2 linked regions of the Homo sapiens genome follow. The protein of the gene in region 2 interacts with the protein of the main gene of each other region in a pairwise test. Each region holds a gene or a part of one and is shown on either strand. Other genes may lie near its edges.

Region 1 (7,037 bases), on a different chromosome or scaffold from region 2:
GGGGGCTAGCAAGAAAGGAGATGAGGCTGGCATGAGCTGGGGACCCTGCCAACAGCTGTGGTTTCAAGAGTGGGGTAGCAAGGAGGTGGCGGGGCGGGTAAGGGTACGGGCAGTGGTGCAGAAGGGAAGAAGGTTGTTACGCAAGGAGAAATAAAAAGGAACTTGAAAATAAAAAGGAGGGAGGAGGAAAGCAAGCTAAGGGTACTGTTAGTGCTCCTGGCACTCCGTCGTGGGGCCAGCGTTGCCTTGAGACCCTCCACCCTCCCTCAGCCTCAGGAGAATTAGGTTCCAGTCCCTCTAGGAAGGACAGGGCTGCCAGTGACACCCAGGAGGAACAGGCAGTGCGCAGGAACCCTGGGGCGGCCCCAGGGTTGGGGGAGGGAAGGTTGGCTGGCTAGAGGGCATTGTGCCAGGAGCAGGATGGGGGGCCAAGCTGGGCAGTGTCCAGGGTCAGGGCGAGGGTGGAAGACCCTCGGGGTCAAGCACAGCAGAGATCGCTGGGGCAGTTCACTAGGGGTGACTGAAGGTGGGAAAGGAGGGGTGGGCTCGATGGGGAGGAGAACCAGGGGCACGGAAGCAAGAAACTGGCTGAGTTCTGGGGTTAAGGCTGGGCCGGGTGTGTTGGAATAAGGCCTGCACTACTCCCTGTGCTGAAATTGGCAAGCAGGACTTCCTGTTTCCCGAGAAAAGCTCTTACATAAGGCTCTGGACGAAGAGACAAAGCAGCGGCCTCAAGCCCCCCGGCCACTGCGGGATTCCTCCCCAGCACACAGGGTTCCGGGTTCCCGTGTGCCTGCTGACTCTCAGCCCCTCCTCCAGGCTGGCTCCTGCCCGCCCCACCTCCCAGCCAGGGCCTGTGCCAGCACCTGCTGAATGTCCGAGGCCACCAAGAGGAAGGGCCCCTGCTCCTCCCAGCCAGGAAGGGATTTCCCCGCAGGAGGAAGTCTGCCTCCTAGGCCAAGGAGGCCGCTTCTGCTGTACCTTGGGCGGAGGATTGATTTTTTTCCTGGGCAGTGTGCCTTCCTACCTCTGCTCCCACCTGGGGGCTGGAGGCATGGAGGTCCCCGCCCCCAAGCCTGAACATCATCCCGGAGTTCCAGCTGTGCCGCTCCGCAACGCCCCCCTTCACGTGGCCCCCAGCTACCCTGAGAGTGTCCCCTGAGCCCCAATAAAGAGAGAGACTATGACTTATTCTATTTAATATCCATTTATCAACATTTTGTCACAATAATAATAAAAATAATATCTGTTTTAAAAATCCACAGGGAATTCTCAAGGGAGGAGCTTGTCTTGTTTCTCGCCCCTCACATTTGGGAACTCCTGGCCTAGGCCCAGTCTCTTTGGCTTCCTGCCGCCAGGTCCAGCCCCTCTTAGTGCCTGAAGTGGGGTCTTCTGGACCCATCCTTGCCCACAGAGTACAGTGAACACAATGCCCTGGGGGTCTGTGGCCAGGGGGGAGTCGAGATCACTGGGGGCCTCAAAGGGTCAGGGATTGGGGAGCTAGTGAGGTGGAGAGTGGGCGGTGGGGGAGTTGTAAGATAAGAGTGGGAATACTGTATTTATGTGGGATGGAAAACACGTGAACAGGCCCAGGCAGCCTCTAGAGGGAGGGGCAGGTCTGGAGCAAAGAGCGGCTGAGGGTGGGGCAGAGGGGACCGGGTGCCCAGAGAGCTGTCGAGGGGAGCCGGCAGCCTGGGACGACTGCGGGGAGACCAGGGCCCCTCAGTGAACCTGGAAGAGTCCGAAGTAGGTGAGGAAGGGGGCAGCCTTGAGATGGGCCCAGGGGAGGGTGCGGATCCGCAGGGAGGACCCTGGCCGCAGGGCCAACAGCCCAGACACCTGGCAGAGGCGGAGCTGGGGCCCGAGGGAACTCGCCGCAGTGGCTGAGAATTCCTCCAGGCAGCGCAGGGCCAGCACACCATCCACCAGCAAGTCCAGCTTCAGGTAGACAGCCTTCCCCTCATCAAAGTGCACCTGGGGTGGGGACAACAGGCCGAGTCCAGGCCTCTGCCTGCCCTCGCCTCAATTTCCAATTTCCTCAGCGACGCAGGCATCCCATCCCACCCAAACCCCAACTCACCCTCCCAGCCCTGTAGCTTGTCCCCCACTCTCCTGGCAAACCCTTCGCCACTCTCTTACTGCGTTACCCATGCAGCCAGATGGGGCTTACCTGACAGTACAGGTAGTAGAGCCCAGCCCGGGTGACTATAAACTCCCCGATCTGGCGGTTGTAGCGCAGAGGGCTGGAGCTGTTGATTCTGGCTTCCTCCCAGCCACTCACTGTCCCGTCCACACCTGAACACGGATGCTCAGAGATAAGGAAACGTCTCTCTACAGGACTCCCCCACACTCCCCAGGGATCCATTGAGCATATGAACATTCGGCGCCCACTTTACCCAGAAGACACATAGATCACCCCGGGCAAGGGAGGACCCATCCCCTATGATGCCCATAGTTGACTAGGAAGTTATGTGAAAAAATCTAATGTATATGGCCAGAGACATTCAGGGCAGATTGTCACCTGCAGTCACTTCTGGGGAGAAGAGTAGAACTGAAGGAGAAGCGTGAGGGGATTTAATGTTTTACTTCATGGATATCTATATTATTTGCTTCTTTTATATGGAGGATGTAAACATACATTATCTGAATTAGTACAACTAAAAATAATAAAATGAAACCCAATTGTCCATCAACAAAATGTCTATCCATATAATGGAATATTATTTGGCCATAAAAAGAGTGAAGTACTGATACACACTATGGCACAGATGTGCCTTGAAAACATCATGCTCAGCCAGGTGCAGTGGCTCACGCCTGTCATCCCGGCATTTTGAGAGGCCAAGGTGGGCGGATCACCTGAGGTCGGGAGTTCGAGACCAGCCTGGCCAACAAGGTGAAACCCCGTCTCTACTAAAAATACAAAAACTAGCAGGGCATGGTGGCAGGCACCTGTAATCCTAGCTACATGGGAGGCTGAGGCAGGAGAATTACTTGAACCTGGGATGGGGAGGTTGCAGTGAACCAAGATCATGCCACTGCACTCCAGCCTGGGCAACAGAGCTAGACTCTGTCTCCAAAAAAAAAAAAAAACAAAAAAAACGCTCACTGGGCATTTTTATTTCCACCAATGGGTTCCCACAACCTGTGCTCTGCAGAGTCTCCAGCCCTGAAGTTTCCTTCCCTTCCTTACCCTGCCAACTGCACCATCTGAACAGCAATAGCCCCTCAAACTCATCTCAACCAACACTGAGCTGACCCCCCTCATCCCACTCTTGCTTTACTGTCTGTTTTCCACATTTGGCTTCTGGTTTTGCCACCAGGGGGATATTCAAGCCTCCCTCTCCTTTACCTACATCATTAATCGATCACCAGTTCCTATCTATCCTGCCTCCTAAATAGCTCTCTCCCCTCTCTCCCCCATCTGGTGCCTCTGTCTGGTTTTCACAGCATTCCCTGTTTCCATTCTGGCTTCCTCCAGTTTATTCCCTACACAAAGCCACAGAATGAGTCTCTAAGATGCAGACGTAAGCCCGCCTCGCCTCGCCTTCCTCCTTCCGATGGCTCACCTCAGAATAGTTCCCACATGCCACCGTGTGGCCTGGCTTCTGTCTCCAGCCTCATCCCCATCTCGCTCCTCTAGCACTTTCTGCTTCTGCCACGCTGAACTTAGAGTCCCCCAGCCTCATCATGCTCTGGGCAAACCCGGGGCTTTTGCCCCAGGGGCTGCTTCTGCTTGCACCCACCATTCTTGACCCCTTGCCTGTCTTGTCTTACGCTCCTGCTTCAAGGCCCAGCGGCACCTTGCGATGCAGGGAGAGAATCCCTGACTCCACAGCCATGTCTGTCTTCCCCTGTGTTGCCAGGTATCTTGGCCACTTTTATTATTGTTCTTGTCATATTCCACTGTAATTACAAATTTTTTTTTGAGATGGAGTCTCACTCTTGTCACCCAGGCTGGAGTGCAGTGGCACAATCTCGGCTCACTGCAGCCTCCGCCTCCCGGGTTCAAGTGATTCTCATGCTTCAGCCTCCTGAGTAGCTGGGATTACAGGCATGTGCCACCAAACCTGGCTAATTTTTTTTGTATGTTCCTGTAATTACAAATTTATATGCTTGTTTCCTCTCCTAGACAGTGACTCCTTAAGAGTTGGTCTGAGGCTGGGCACAGTGGCTCACGCCTGTAATCCCAGCACCTTGGGAGGCCAAGGTGGGTGGATCACGAGGTCAGGAGATCGAGACGCTCCTGGCTAACACGGTGAAACCCCGTCTCTACTAAAACATAAAAAAAAAATTAGCCAGGCGTGGTGGCAGGCGCCTGTAGTCCCAGCTACTCGGGAGACTGAGGCAGGAGAATCACTTGAACCCGAGAAGGCTGCAGTGAGCCGAGATGGCGCCACTGCACTCCAGCTGGGGCAACAAGAGCAAAACTCCATCTCAAAAAAAAAAATGGGTCTGACCGGCTGGGCGCGGTGGCTCACGCCTGTAATCCCAGCACTTTGGGAGGCCGAGTTGGGTGGATCACGAGGTCAGGAGATCGAGACCATCCTGGCTAACACGGTGAAACCCCGTCTCTACTAAAAAATAAAAAAAAATTAGCCAGGCGTGGTGGCGGGCGCCTGTAGTCCCAGCTACTTGGGAGGCTGAGGCAGGAGAATGGCATGAACCCAGGAGGCGGAGCTTGCAGTAAGCCGAGATCGCGCCACTACACTCCAGCCTGGGCGACAGAGTGAGACTCCATCTCAAAAAAAAAAAAAAAAAAAAAAAAGAGTCTGGATATTAGTTGCTGTGGGCACCTAGCCTGGCCCCTAGCAAACAGTAGGTCTTCAATGCCTGTTGAGTCAATGAATGAATGAATGTCTGGATAATTGCCAAAATAAGTGGTCTATACAGAGGGGAGGAAGGCTGATCTGGGCATGAAGAGTAGGGAGGGCAGAGAAGAGAGGGCATTCCTAGCTACGAAGCCAGCCTAAGCAAAGGCTGCTTGTAGCCTAAGGGCATGGTGTGCCCAGGAGCACGGAGGGCTTGCCTGGTATATCACTTGTCTCCAGCCACAAACCTCACCTGGACATTCCGTCCTGCCTGGCAATCTTACATTCCCCCACGAAGCTTGCTTTCATAATCAGCAAGTTGAGATTTTGTACCATTTCTCCTCAAATCTCCTGTCTCCATCTCCCTAGTTGTCCAGAGGACCTAGAAGTCATCGAGCAAAGGTTCCCTCATCTCCCCCCAGCAAATCTACAAACCCACCTGGTCTCTTGTTCTCCTTTGACCCTCTGGTAATGGTGGGAGATGTGTCCTCTCTTCTTTCTGGAAACTTCCCTCTCCCCTTTTTGGATGTGGCCCCTGCATGGACCCCTCACCCCTGCACCAGCCACCTCGCCTTTCATGCAGACCATGTCCAGTACACAGGCACATTCTAGCTGGGTTCAAATCTTGGCTCCACCACTTAGTATCTCATGGCCTCAGACAAGTTGTGTAACCTCCATCTGTAAAATGGAGGTAATTAGAGTATCTTCCTTTTAGGGCTGTTGTGAGGATTAGATAAGACCAAACACAAGTGCCAGACACAGTGCCTATCTCAAGAAAGCCCTCAGTACATGTTAGATCAGATGAAAATAGTATTGTTCACAGAACTAAACTTTTCCTTGGTCCACACACCCCTCCACCTACTGGCCTATTTCTCTGCTCCTTGTTACAGAGAAACTTCTAAAAAGGGTTGTCCTAGGCCGGGTGCAGTGGCTCATGCTTGTAATCCCAGCACTTTGGGAGGCCGAAGCGGGTGGAACACCTGAGGTCGGGAGTTTGAGACCAGCCTGACCAACATGGAGAAACCCTGTCTCTACTAAAAATACAAAATTAGCCAGGCGTGGTGGCGCATGCCTGTAATCTCAGCTACTGGGGAGGCTGAGGCAGGAGAATTGCTTGAACCCGGGAGGTGGAGGTTACGGTCAGCCGAGATCGTGCCATTGCACTGGATCCAGCCTGGGTGACAAGAGTGAAACTCTGTCACAAAAAAAAAAAAAAAAAAAAAAAAAAAAAAAAAAAAAAAGGTTGTCCCTGCCTCCAGTTCCTTATTTCTCATTTTCTTCTCAACCCAATGCACACTGCCTTCCTGTTCTAACTATGCCACTGAAACCACCCTCTTTAAGGTCAGCAGGACTTTCACGTTACCAAACCCAGCCATCATTTCTCTGTTCTCATTTCATGTGATCTCTCAGCTGCATTCAACACAGACAGCCACATCCTCCTTGAAACAGTGGTTTCTCCGAATCCAGGATGCCACCCTCCCTGGGTTTCTTCCTCTCTCTCCAGCTTCTTTTCAGTCTCTGCTGGTTTTCCCCTCAGCTCCACTTCAAGATGCCCAAGAGTCTCAGGGCTTCATTCGTGGGGCCCTTCTTTCTCCTGGCGTCTCACCCAATCCTGTGGCTTTAAATGCCATCGATAGGCCGGGCACAAGGGCTCACACCTGTAATCCCAGCACTTTGGGAGGCTGAGGCTGGCGGATCACCTGAGATCAGGAGTTCAAGACCAGCCTGGCCAACACGGTGAAACCCTGTCTCTACTAAAAAATACAAAAATGAGCTGGGTGTGGTGGCACCCGCCTATAATCTCAGCTACTTGGGAGGCTGAGACAGGAGAATCGCTTGGACCCAGGAGGCAGATGTTGCAGTGAGCCAAGATCGAACCACTGCACTCCAGCCTGGGTGACAGAGCGAGACTCTGTCTCAAAAAAAAAAAAAAAAAAGCCATCCATATGGCCATGACTCCTGGCTTTATCCGTCCTGACCTAGCCTAAGCTAGTCGACAATGTCCAGCCATCCATTTCTGGAATTTACTTTATTGTCATTTATCCGCTTGTTTATTTTAGACTTCTCAACGTTAATAATTATCTTACATACTTCCCAACCTATTTATTCCTTGGTCAATCCCTTCTTAGGAAATGGCATCATTCTTCCCAGAGATACCCAAGTTAAAAATCTAGAAGCTGGCTGGGTGCAGTGGCTCATGCCTGTAATCCCAGCACTTTGGTAGGCCGA
Region 2 (7,037 bases):
CGTCCTTTTGTGTCTGGCCTCTCTCCCTGAGTGTGATGTCTTCACGGTGCATCTGCGCTGGGGCCTGGGTCAGAGCCTCACCCATCCACATTCCACCGTGTAGATGGGCCATGCTGTGCTGACCATTTAGCGTGGACAGGCATTTAAGCTGTTTTTGCTTCTTTTTATTGTTTTATTTTTTATTTTTTATTTTTTTTTGAGACGGAGTTTCACTCTTATCGCCCAGGCTGGAGTGCAGTGGCGCGATCTGGACTCACTGCAACCTCCGCCTCCCAGGTTCAAGCAACTCTCCTGCCTCAGCCTCCTGAGTAGTTGGGATTACAGGTGCCCACCACTGCACCTGGCTAATTTTTTTGCATTTTTAGTAGAGACGGGGTTTCACCATGTTGGCCCAGGCTAGGCTTGAACTCCTGACCTCAGGCAATCTGCCCGCCTCGGCCTCCCAAAGAGCTGGGACTGCAGGTGTGAGCCACCGCGCCCGGCCTCTTCTTGCTTTTTGACTCTTGTGAATACAGCTGCTGTGAACATGTGTCTGGGTTTTGGTGGACATGTGTCTCTCTTGGGCACATATCTAGTATCAGGGTGGAACCGGCGGGTCTCATGGAAGCTGTGCAACTTTTGGGGGCCACCAGCCAGTCTTCCACAGGGGCCGCTCCCGACAACCCCACCAGCCGTGCTGTGCCTGAAGGTCAAGTTTCTCTGCACCTCGCCAGTCCCCTCGCCAGTCCCCCTTCCGTCCCCGTCCCCACAAGCCAGCGTGCTGGTCATCAGGGCAATTCCCTCAGCTCCCTGGGCCCCAGGGACCAGCTGGCCTCTGCGAGGGTCCCACAGCCCCGGAGTCCAGGTAGGGCGAGGTGTCTGTGGGGATGGAGGTCCTCCCTTACCTTCGGTTTTGAGGCGCTCTGCCTCTGCTGAGTCCTCCTCGGAAGGCGGGGTTCGCGCGGGGCTCCTCAGGTCCTGCGGCATCTCCTGGACCCGGAGGCAAAGGCGGCCCGCTGTCCTCTCCTCCCAACCTGGCACCCTCCGGCCTTAGCTTCCCTCGGGACGCCAGAGAGGGCCACCAAGTTCCGAAGGACCCGGGGGCTCTGCAGGGGACTCCTGGCCCCCCATCATGTGGCCCTGGGCGAGTGACCACAGCGCTATGTGTCTCAGGACCCGCCGATAGGGGGAGGAGGGCCAAGTGCTCCTGCAGCCACGTCCCCAGCCCAGGAGAGGATGCAGGCAGAGTGCTGGGGGACGATGAGAGCGGGGCTCCTGGGGTCCCCAGGGCTGCCTGCTGTTGCTGTTCTTATTTTGGGGGCAGTGGCTGGGGAAGCATCGAGGCTCACCTTGCCCGTGGCAGCCGCTTCAAATATCTCCGGCAGAGTCTGAGGGAGCGCAAGGTCACTGTCTTCTACCGTCACCCCAAACGCAGTCTCCAGGCACTGGATGGCGACTGAAGCGGGGACAGAGGCGGTCCCATTCATTGCACGCAGCCCCGAGGTTACGTTTTTGGGTCTAGAGGGCGGGGTTGGTGCTCATGCTTCCCCAGGTGTGTTCATTCCCAAGGACCCCAGAACGCAGGGGCCGCCGCCTGTGCTCTGGGCTGGGACAGTGGACCCTCTTCCTTCCCGAAAAGAAAAGCCAGACAGAGACGCCCCGTGCCCCTGAGAGCAGCAGAGGCCGTGGGCAGAGTGGAGCCCAGGTGGTGACCTCAGGCCTCTGTGGGGTCCCAATGCTGGGGCTGCCCGGCTGCGGCGTGGTGGGGGCTTGGCCCCACCTGGAGGGCCACGTCAGGGGTGAGGTGCCCCGGATGCTGTTGCACCTCCAAGGGCGCCTGGCCTGAGTAAGGAGCTTGAAGCCAGCCCCCAGTAGAAGGCCTGTATGACTGGGTCTGTACCAGGGCAGGACCATTGAGAGCAGGACAAGAAACAGCCACAGGGCCCCTCTCTCTGCTGGCCCACCTGACAGACTCAGCACCCAGGGGGCCCTCCCACCGAGCCAGACAACACTAGCCCTGGCCGCCTCCTCGTGTGGACCCAGGGTCCTAACCCAGGTCAGAAGTGGGGGTCAGCCACTTCCTGCCCAGCACTGTGTCAAGGACCCCGGGCACATCCCTACAGCTGTCACTGGGTGTCCATGCTACAGAGGCCTGGCAGGCCCAGGACACAGGTGAGCGAGGCATAGGTGGGGAAGGAGGACCTAGAGCAGAACCTGCAGCCACACGAGGGTGCCTCCCCGAGCCCTCCTTTCCCTCCGAGCCCCGGATCCAGGTGTCGCAGAAGCGCAAGCAAGACCAGCCAGGAGACCAAGGCACCTGGGGAGCGGACAGGCCATGCAGGATGCCAACGAGTCTGGGACTCTGGGGCGGGGCCAGCACTAGGAGAGCTTTTTCCCCGTGACCGATGGTGACACACACACACTGGGTGGTGAGAACATTCCAGAACACACCTTGGTGGAAGATGGGGAGATGGAAAAAAGCCACTGGAAGGCAGCTCAGCCTGAAGGCATCAAGCAGTGGTGGCGCCACGCAGTGGCAGGCGGGAGGGCTCAGCTCGGCCCTGGCTCCCACGGCCGGGGGCTGTGTGGCCCTGGGCAGACCCCTGCCCTCTCTGGGCTTAGCTTCCACCCCCAAAAAGCCAGGCGGGGGACCAGGCATCTACACACCAGGTGTCTACACGAGGCGACTGTGCTGGCCGCTGCCCGGGGAGAGGGGGAAGTGGCAGGCACCCACCTACCTTCCAAGCTCTCCTGAGCATCGGACGAGAGGCCCCCGTGCCGGAGCTGGTCATGCAGGAACTGGATGATGGCGTAGGCCAGGCGCTTCTTGTTGTCCATCTTGAGCCCAGAAGAGGTGATACCTGGGGGTGCAGGAAAAACCCCCATCAGGCCCCCTCACACTCCCCACTCCAGGCACCCCAGGCCTGCCCCTAACTAGCTGGGCCTCACTTTAAGGGTGCTGGCTGATCTCAGCTCCAGGACAGCCCAGGTAGAAAGGCCTTAATACGCCCATTTCACAGATGATGACCTGAGGCCCAGAGCTCACCAATCCGGCTATGCACACAGCCAGAAAGTGTGAGGCCAGCAGGCAAGCAGGGCCTGCCCTAGAGAACCCGCGTGCTCCCAGGGCCTCCTGAGCACTCCCAGGGTGGTACTGAGGCGCCACGGAGGTCCCCTCCGCCCCTGCTTCTGGCATGAGGTGGGTGGGGGCCAGGGATGCTGCCCAGCACCCTGCAGTGCCCAGGACAGCTCCACTCCAGAGAACGATCCAGCCCCAATGTCCACAGTGCTGAGAGGGAGAGACCTTGTCCTCAGCCAGAGCCACTGCCCCTTTCCTCAATTTACCTCTTTTGTGGCATGTCAGCAAGCATTTCTTAGGTACCCAACGGGGCCAGGTGTGCCTGCCCTGGTATCACTGTTTCACAGGACTTGCAGAGGACTCCCCCCAGGGACTTCTTGGGGACCCGTCTTGTTCCCCCTGGGAGGCCTACCTACCTCATTCCACCTCAGACCCCCCTCTAGTTCCCCCTCGGACACCCTCCTGTGCCCCCCTCGGACACCCGCCTGGTTCCCCCACCTGACACCCTCCTGGTTCCCCCAGCGGACACCCTCCTGGTTCCCCCAGCGGACACCAGCCTGGTTCCCCCACCGGACACCCTCCTGGTTCCCCCAGCGGACACCAGCCTGGTTCCCCCACCGGACACCCGCCTGGTTCCCCCCTCGGACACCCGCCTAGTTCCCCCCTCGGACACCCGCCTGGTTCCCCCCTCGGACACCCGCCTGTGCCCCCCTCGGACACCCGCCTGTGCCCCCCTCGGACACCCGCCTGGTTCCCCCCCGGATACCCTCCTGGATGCCCCCTCGGACACCCTCCTGGTTCCCTCTCAGAAACCCTCCTGGTTCCCCCTCGGACATCCGCCTGGTCCCCCCTCGGATACCCTGTCTTGTTCCTCATTCCCAGGACTTGACAGCTGCTTCTGCTCATGTCTGTGGTCCCTGCAGTTTCCTGCCAAAGCTCTAAAGGGTGCCAGATGGTGACATCAGGAGAGGCTGTTCTGGAATCTGGAGCTGTAGTCTATGGACAGGTCTTTTTTTAGTACAAGACCTTTCACACAGGTTTCCTGGGTGCCTGGGCCAACTTGGAGGGGCCTCGGCCACAGTGACCTTCACGGCTCTGAGCAGGAAGCCCCGACGTGAGCTTCCCCCGGGGCAGGCTGGCCGGCTGCCTTGAGGCGCCAGCTCAGGAAGGCTTGGCCTCACTGTGCCTCCATTTCCCCCGAAGGCTGGCGATGGTGACTCTAAACATTCAGATGTAACAAGCTGCGTGGAGAAGCAGCCGCCCCCGCCCCCGCCGCTGGAGCAGCCAAGTTCTGGGCTAGTCACGTCCACCTGGGACCTGAGCACGGGACCTTGTCTGTGTCTTTGCAGATGGAAACAAGTGGAGATGAGGTCGCTGTGGTGGCCCTAATGCAGGGATTGAACATGGCCGCACGGAGACGGCCGCGTGAAGACGGAGGCAGAGGCTGAGGCCATGTGGCCACACGAAGAGAGGTGAGGCTCGCTGGCCCCCAGCAGCTGGAAGAGGCAGGACGGAGCCTCCCTTGGGGCCTTCAGAGGGAACGTGGCCCAGCCTGCACCTTCATCTCAGACTTCTGGCCTCCAGAACTGCGAGGGAAATCAATCTTGGTTGTTTTAAGCCAGCCGGGTTGTGAGGGAGAGGCCAGGCGGTTCCCGGATCGTGGCCTGCAAAGCCTGTGAGCTCGGACGGGTTGTTCGGCCTGAGCCTCCGCCTCCATGTCTGTAAAATGGGGAGCTCCATTGTGGCTGCTGTCAGGGGTCGGGGAAAAAATAACCCGGAAGCTGTCAGCCCAGCGCTTGGCGCCCTGCGATATCTGTTGTTAATATCACGATTCTGCCAGGCGTGGTGGCTCACGCCTGTAATCCCAGCACTTTGGGAGGCCGAGGCAGGCAGATCACGAGGTCAGGAGACAGAGACCATCCTGGCCAAACACGGTGAAACCCCATCTCTACTAAAAATACAAAAATTAGCTGGCATGGTGGCACGTGCCTGTAATCCCAGCTACTCGGGAGGCTGAGGCAGGAGAATCACTTGAACCAGGGAGTTGGAGGTTGCAGTGAGCTGAGATCACACCACTGCACTCCAGCCTGGCAACAGAGTGAGACTCCATGTCAAAAAAAAAAAATCATGATTCCTCGTGGTGAGTCTCGTGGCATAGACCTCGGTTGGCTGTTTTTGGCAGTGTGACCTAGGGGAAGCGACTTAACTCTGCTGAGCCTCAGTTTCCTCTTCTGTCCCCCATGGATGGCGACAGCACCTCCCCATCGGGGGGGGGGGGAGGGGTACGAGACCAGGCGTGCACAACGCTGAGTGAACACCCCCACACAGGCAGGTACGTGGACGGGTGCTGGTGCACCCTCCGTGTCCAGATCAACACATGCTGAGGCTATTCCAGAAACGCTGCCCGGCTGTGCAGTTTCACTGGGAGCATTTGGAGAACCTGCTCTGAGGCCAGAAGCAGGCATGGAGAGGGGTTGCTGTGGTGCTGGCGCATGGAGGGGCAGCCCTTGGGGAGGCCCTGGCCGTGGGATGGGACCCCCATCCTCTGTTCTTGCGATGAGGTTCCCTTGGCTGGGCCTCCCTTCTCCACCTGCTCCTTCCGGGCTGGGCTGGGCAGCCGCCTTCCCTGGAATCCACTCCCTGTCCAGGGCCTCTGGTGTCTCTGAGCAGCTGGGTCTTCCCCATCTCTGTCCCTCACTGGCTGACATACAGGGTGGCGGGGCTGTGTGTCACCGGCCTTCCTCCGGGGCCGGGCCCAGCCCGTGCATAGTGGACCTTATTCTTAGTTGCACTCTGTGTGCCAAGACGCATGAGGCAAGGGGCAGGCCTGAGGCCTCAGGAGCTGGGGAACCACCGTGAGGAGAAGCACAGGTTTGAGATCAGACGCTCGGATTCAGGCTGGGTCAGACAGGGCCTGGCCAAGAGGCCGCCAGCCTCGGGATGGACGAGGAAGGGCGAGGCCTGAAGGAATCTTCTACAGTGACAGCTGCCTCTGGATAATTTCTTATTCTTCTCTGCTCTGTGCCCAGATCTGCTCTCCAAGAAGTGACTAAAGCCACAAACACCTACAAGGAAACTCTGACCCAGCACCCAGGAGGCCACGGCTCCTCCTTCTGAGCCAGCACAGTGCAAGGGGTCTCTGCCGCCAGGTCCCACTCCCCAGCTGGGCCCCAGGGACCCTCTGCGCGCAGCCACGCTGACAGGCGGCTCCAGGGGCTGAATACTGTCGTGTGCTGAACTGTGTCCCCCAAATCCATACACTGAAGTCCTAACTGCCAGGACCTTGGAATGCGACCTCACCTGGAAATAAGATCTTGGCGGACAGAATTTGGTAAGATGACATCATACCAGTGTACGGCGGGTCCCTAGAGCAATAACCAATGTCCTTATAAAAAGGGGACATTTGGATGCAGACGCATGCACAGGGAGAACACTGTGTGGATGTGAAGGCAGAAATGGGTGACGCGGCCACACGGCAGGGACACCGAGGGCAGAGATGGGTGACGCGGCCACAGGGCAGGGACACCGAGGGCAGAGGTGGGTGACGCGGCCACAGGGCAGGGACACCGAGGGCAGAAATGGGTGACGCGGCCACAGGGCAGGGACACCGAGGGCAGAGGTGGGTGACGCGGCCACACGGCAGGGACACCGAGGGCAGAGGTGGGTGACGCAGCCACACGGCAGGGACTCCGAGGGCAGAGGTGGGTGACGCGGCCACACGGCAGGGACACCGAGGGCAGAGATGGGTGACGCGGCCACACGGCAGGGACACCGAGGGCAGAGGTGGGTGACGCGGCCACACGGCAGGGACACCGAGGGCAGAGGTGGGTGACGCGGCCACACGGCAGGGACTCCGAGGGCAGAGGTGGGTGACGCGGCCACACGGCAGGGACACCGAGGGCAGAGATGGGTGACGCGGCCACACGGCAGGGACACCGAGGGCAGAGATGGGTGACGCGGCCACAGGGCAGGGACACCG

What was found. The genes of interacting proteins can lie anywhere in the genome.
Region 1: the proteins of SGTA (region 2) and TNFSF12-TNFSF13 interact in binary tests that used the Homo sapiens proteins (3 or more experiments, as listed by UniProt).

Annotation. Positions count from the first base shown.
Region 1 is NC_000017.11:7,552,036-7,559,072, reverse strand, and holds part of TNFSF12-TNFSF13 (TNFSF12-TNFSF13 protein), read right to left. Parts: intron 5,487-7,037; exon of another isoform or gene 5,248-5,486; intron 2,296-5,247; coding exon 2,171-2,295; intron 1,975-2,170; coding exon of another isoform or gene 1,723-1,974; exon of another isoform or gene 1,192-1,722; intron 792-1,191; exon of another isoform or gene 698-791; intron 324-697; exon of another isoform or gene 34-323; coding exon of another isoform or gene 1-33. Other genes in the region: TNFSF13 (tumor necrosis factor ligand superfamily member 13 isoform alpha precursor), read right to left, coding at 1-33; TNFSF12 (tumor necrosis factor ligand superfamily member 12 proprotein), read right to left, coding at 1,723-1,974, 2,171-2,295. UniProt on the Homo sapiens protein: Binds to FN14 and possibly also to TNRFSF12/APO3. Weak inducer of apoptosis in some cell types. Mediates NF-kappa-B activation. Promotes angiogenesis and the proliferation of endothelial cells. Also involved in induction of inflammatory cytokines.
Region 2 is NC_000019.10:2,766,252-2,773,288, forward strand, and holds part of SGTA (small glutamine-rich tetratricopeptide repeat-containing protein alpha), read right to left. Parts: intron 2,841-7,037; 5' UTR 2,818-2,840; coding exon 2,718-2,817; intron 1,436-2,717; coding exon 1,329-1,435; intron 970-1,328; coding exon 885-969; intron 1-884. UniProt on the Homo sapiens protein: Co-chaperone that binds misfolded and hydrophobic patches-containing client proteins in the cytosol. Mediates their targeting to the endoplasmic reticulum but also regulates their sorting to the proteasome when targeting fails.